2 separate regions of the Homo sapiens genome follow, and region 1 is linked to region 2. Evidence: fine-mapped expression QTL. A gene starts in region 2. The other region holds a variant in brackets. All regions are shown on one strand. Distances are from middle to middle.

Region 1 (3,016 bases), 20 kb after region 2:
GCAAAACGCAATAAAGGGTCTTGCCACATTTTCCTTCTGCTCCCTCTGCCTCCGGACTGACCCTGGTGCTTTCCTTTGTGGGCCTTCGTGGCTTACCTCGTGTTTCTAGGAACCTGCAAGTGTAAAAACTTCTTTCTTCATGACAGTCATTTCCATGACTGCTGCCTTACTATACCTGATTTAAACAAATCCTGAGCACATTTTAAAACATAAATTCAACAGCTGGACCTGCTATGCAGAGCAATTCAGGCGGAGGGAATGGCTCATGCACACTCTCCAAGTACTGTTAGGTATGAGTTCTAAATTTCTCTTCAAAGAATCAATATGTCAGTATGTTCAGTTCTTTGCCTTCTACTGTTAAACTTAACTTCCTCGTAAAGCAACCTTTTTCCATTACCTGCTCCACCCTGACTCATTCTGATTACCTGCTCATTCTCCACCCTGGCTTACTCTGATTTCCTGCTCTGCCCTGTAACCATTTTTCCCGCCAAACCACTCACCCTGTCACTCTCTTTAAATTAGCCAATTGGAATTAGTTTAGCCTGTGCAGTCTAACCCAAGCCAATAGGGGAACCATACAGCAGCAGGGACCACGTGCCTCAGGGATAAGAACCCCTTCCCCTCCCTTGTCCAAGTGTGCGCTCACGATTGCTCCATCTGTAAGGGTGCACCCTTCTATAGAAGTACGTTGTCTTGCTGAGAATTAAAAAGAAAATTTTATATTCGAGCGCTATTTCTTTTGCGGCACTGAAACTTTATTTATAATAGTATGAATGAGCCTGGCATGTGCAGGGAAGAACCAGCAGATCGGTCTGGCTGGAGCATATCATACGAGGGGAGCGTAATGGGCAAGGAAGCCAAAGAGGAGGTAGGAGCTAGATCGTTCATCACGCAGGGCCTCGAAGGCAAGGGTAAGGAATTGGGATTTGATTCTAAATGCGAAAGGAAGTAAATAAAATATTTTACGCAAGGAGTGATTGAATCTGACATATTTTTTAAAAAATCACTCTGAGGTCTACTTGGAGAAAGAATTACAATGATGCAAGAGTGGAAGCAGAAAAGCCAGTCTGGAGACTACTGCAGGACCTGAGGCAAGAGATGACAATGGCTTGGACCATGCTGGCGGCTGTGGATATGGAGCCCAGTGCCATCTAAATTTATCCTAAAGAATGCAGAAAATCAAAGACTAGTCTCATATGAGACAAACTCAAGCCCCAGCAGAATAACAAGTGGGACCCTGAGGAGTATAAATAATGCCAGATCATTTCTTTCTTTGATAGAATGATGAGTCACCTTAATCAGGGGAAGAAGAGTTTCTGGTAAAAAATCTTGAGTCACGCACTTTTTTTTTTTTT[A/TA]ACGTCTCAAGGTAGAATTGTCTAATGCTTAGGTGGTCCACATCTTACAGGTTATCTAGTTTGGTTCCCATATTTCATGAGTAAGAAAAATGAAGTGAACTCATCGTGGTGAGGGTCTTGCCCAAATTAAACCTCTGGAGAGTAGATTCTTTAATGCTCAAGAGGCTTTTTGCAAGGAAAGAACATACTCTTTGGGCATTGTTCAATGCTCAATTTATTAGTCTAATATTCTATTCCCAGTAAAATGCTCAAATTCAGGAAGGATTCCAAAAAATCAGTTCGGGACGGGTGCGGTGGCTCACGCCTGTAATCCCAGCACTTTGGAAGGCCAAGGCTGGCGGATCACAAGGTCAGGAGATCAAGACCATCCTGGCTAACACGGTGAAACCCCATCTCTACTAAAAATACAAAAAATTAGCCAGGCGTGGCAGCGTGTGCCTGTAGTCCCAGCTGTTGGGGAGGCTGAGGCAGGAGAATGGTGTGAACCTGGGAGGTGGAGCTTGCGGTGAGCTGAGATTGCCCTACTGCACTCCAGCCTAGGAGACAGAGCAAGACTCCATCTCAAAAAATAAAATAAAAAATCAGTTCAATGTTTTTTCTGTTCTTTTTTGTGCTTCTGTTTTTTAACCTCTTCGAGGTAAGACTGGATAATGATACCCATCCAACATATTTTCAATATGTTTTGGAAAACAAAGATATTGATAAGCAGGTACTATGCAGAGTGCCAGATTAAAACCTTTAGAGACTCAAAGTTCAAAAATGTTATAGAGTCCATACTCAATATGTAATTCTATATAAAAATAATACTAGTCCATAATGTAAGTGGGAGACCAGCAAGATCCTGATAATTTTCAAATGACTTTTTCTGTAGTTTAAAAATAACCACTTTTTAACTTAAAAAAAGTTCTTTTGATGCCTCTGTTTTTGGTGTCCTAAGAATGTATTTAAGCTGCATTTGGGTAATCCAGTTGCAGTTGAGCATCTGCTGTGCTTTACACTAGATGAGGAAATGGGATATGACAGAGAATGACTGGAGGGCTTCTTGATTGCGTTATCAGAACAGACTTCTCTGAGGAGGGAACTTTCAAGTTGAGGTCTAAATGATGAGGAGAACCCAGCTACGTAAAGATTAATGGAATGAGCAACCCAGGAAAAAGAAAGAAAGAAGAAACAGGATCCTGGACATCAAGTAGCTCCCCATCTAGTCAGGGAGACAGACATAAAAAGAGCTCATTTTGGCCGCGCATGGTGGCTCACACCTTTAATCCCAACACTTTAGGAGGCTGAGGTGGGTGGATTGCTTGAGGTCAAGTGTTCGACACCAGCCTGACCAACATGGTGAAACCCTGTCTCTGCTAAAAATACAAAAATTAGCCGGGCATGGTGGCAGACGCCTGTAGTTCCAGCTTTTTGGGAGGCTGAGGCACGAGAATCACTTGAACCTGGAGGCAGGGATTGCAGTGGGCAGAGATCGTGCCACTGCACTCCAGCCTGGGCAACAGAGAGACTCTGTCTAAAAAAAAAAAAAAAAGGAAAAAGAGAGCTGATTTTAACACAATGCGGTTCCTGCTGCACCAGGCATGAGAACAGGAATCCAGTGGAAGGAGTGATTAATTAGAACTAAGAATTGAGAAAGGGCTGTGCCAAGCAGAATATACAAA
Region 2 (2,500 bases):
GGTTTGTTTTTGGTTTCTGGGCGTCGCTTTTTATAGGTTTTCTTTTAAGCCAAAATAACAGCACACAAGAAAGAGGCTTGAGATTGCCGGGATCTCCGGAGCCGGCGGCCTCAAAATGACAAGTTGCTTCTCCCTTATCTTGAAAATTAACAGCAGCCCAAACACTGCAATTTACTCACCGTCCTCCTTTCTCCTAAACTGCCTCGGAGCTTGTTTTGTTAGGTCTAGTTCCATTGTGGAGGGAAAAAGGGTTTCTCGAAAAACTTTATACGGTAAGAGACCAGAACCTTCCAGACCCCTCAACCCTCCTCGCGTACAGACCCTTTTACAAGAAAACAATAGTGAACGAGGAGCTGGACACTCCTCTTGGCTTCCCAATTGCACAACCTCGCCGGCGATTCGACAAAAGAGGGTCCCAGAGCAGATTCTCTCGGCCCCCACGGCTCCTGGGCTTACCCGCGAGGCTGCGCGTCCCTCCCGCCCTTCACTGGGGCTCCAGGATCCCCGGGTGCCCTCTCGGCGGTGGCTGCGGCGCACGCCGGCTGGCTCGCGGGTCCCAGCGCCCATGGTCCCTTTACGCCTCCGCACGCCACCTCCTTGGTGCTGGCAGGATATGTGGAGGGGCAAACAGCGCTCCGTGTCCCCACCCCCAACCCTGAGCCTCAGAGGCTGCAAAGCCGGAGGGTCGGGGCAGCACAGACCCCAGGCCGCCCGGACCCCGGCCCAGACCGGTCTTCCCGCACCCCCAATTTCCCTCACCCGGGCAGTGCAAACCCGCAGCGAAGCCGGCCGGCAAGAGTGACCCGCCGAGGCCCAGGAGCGACGACCGCAGAGGCGCACCGGGCTCCGAGACCTGAGGGGCCGCTGCTCCAGCCGGCTGCTGCCTCTCTCGCGGCGCCTGCCACATCGGGCCGCAGAAGCCCGAGGCCGGCAGAAACCAAAGGAAGGTGGCGCGGGCCAGGGGCGGCGCGGGCACGATTCCTTCCCCGCGGATCTGGCGGGGGAGCAGAGGAGGGAGCAGCCCTGCCCGGAGTCTCAGGCTCCCGCCAGCCCCAATCCCGGGCGACTGCGCCGAGCGCCTCCGGAGTCGCGGGAAGCTCCTCCTGCTCCGCGGCTGGCGCCAGTTGCACGGTGGCCGCCCCCAAATTCGAGGAGGAAGGTGCAAAGTGGTGGGAGGCTGCGGGTCTCCCGGAGGGTGAGGCGTTGGGGACCAGGCGGGAGCACAGCCGAACCCCTACCTTTCGGGCGGGGCGGACACCAGCCGCGCGCCCTCGCCGGGCGCCGGGACCGGAAAATCACCGCGAAGGGAGGGACGAGGAAAGGCGGCGGGTGGCTTCAGGACAAGGTAGGAGGATCGATTTCCACAGCCAAGAAGACACTCCCATCCCGCCCTGGTTTGTTTGGAAAGCTGCAGGAGCTAAAGTGAGGGGTGGCCGGGTACTCCCCTTCCCCGCCCGGCTGGCAGGCGGCAGAAGTAAACACTGAGGCTTGTGGCGCCGCGGACTGACTGTGACACAAGGCTCAGCAGAAGGTTTGGTCCCTATCAGAAGGGGAGGAGTGTTCAGAGAGCTCCTGAATTCCGGGGCTCTGCCCTTCAAGGGCAAATGTGTTCGTACTTTTTATCTTTTGAAGGAGATAAATTACTTTAGGGAGAACGAAGGTGGAACGTGCTGTTTGCGTTTTCTTTTCTCTCCATAGGCAAAACCCTACGTTATTAATGTCCTCTTACTTGGATGGCTCTGAATACTTTTTAAAGTGTGTTTGTCAAATAATTCCTTGTCTAGAAACATTCAAGTCATAGCTCCAACCTTTGGGCCCTGAGCAGTGTAATCACGTGCCATCAATTGACCCCAGAGAGAAGACCCACGGACTTGGATGTAATTCAAAGTTGGCAATGTGTCACGAACTGGAACAAAGTCCTTCATCTGTGATGGGCTTTCTGGTATTTGTCCTTTTTTTTTTTTTTTTTTTTGAGACAGAATCTTGCTTTGTCACCCAGGCTGGGGTACAGGGGCATGATCTTGGCTCACTGCAACCTCTGCCTCCCAGGCTCAAGCGACTCTCCTGCCTCAGCCTCCCGAGTAGCTGGGATTACAGGCTGGGATTACCACTCCCAGCTAATTTTTGTATTTTTAGTAGAGATGAGGTTTCATTATGTTGGCCAGGCTGGTTTCGAACTCCTGACCTCAAATGATCCGCTCGCCTCCACCTGCCAAAGTGCTCTGGTATTTGTCTTAATTGTAATAACAGCCCTAGGAGGTATCATTTGTTGTTTTCCCAACCTTACTTTAAAAAAAAAATGGCCGGGCGCCGTGGCTCACACCTGTAATCCCAGCACTTTCGAAGGCCGAGGCGGGCGGATCACGAGGTCCGGAGTTCCAGATCAGCCTGACCAACGTGGTGAAGCCCCGTCTCTCCTAAAAATACAAAAATTAGCCGGGCATGGTGGTGCGCGCCTGTAATCTCAGCTACTCAGGAAGCTGGGGCAGAAGAATCGCTT

Direction of the effects. Alleles are on the strand shown, and positions count from the first base shown. SD is a standard deviation of normalised expression in the study named.
In carriers of allele TA in region 1, the expression in lymphoblastoid cells of the gene that starts at base 1,120 in region 2 tends to be lower than with A alone (moderate effect, 0.62 SD a copy in CAP).

What was found. PIP is the estimated chance that this variant, and not a neighbour inherited with it, causes the effect. A credible set is the group of variants that fine-mapping cannot tell apart.
Region 1: its variant is the best candidate, but not a certain one, in a credible set for the expression of ST3GAL6-AS1 in lymphoblastoid cells (CAP, PIP 0.73).

What each region holds. Positions count from the first base shown.
Region 1 is chr3:98,710,989-98,714,004 of GRCh38, reverse strand. No RefSeq gene overlaps it. Among named protein-coding and RNA genes, the nearest start is that of ST3GAL6-AS1, 20 kb to the left of the region's middle. The variant A/TA (reference allele first, on the strand shown) is at 1,356.
Region 2 is chr3:98,731,271-98,733,770 of GRCh38, reverse strand. ST3GAL6-AS1 (ST3GAL6 antisense RNA 1) reads left to right here and starts at 1,120. Exons shown (of 5, transcript NR_046683.1): 1 at 1,120-1,345. It also overlaps a transcript of ST3GAL6 not described here. RefSeq lists enhancers at 158-905, 906-1,654.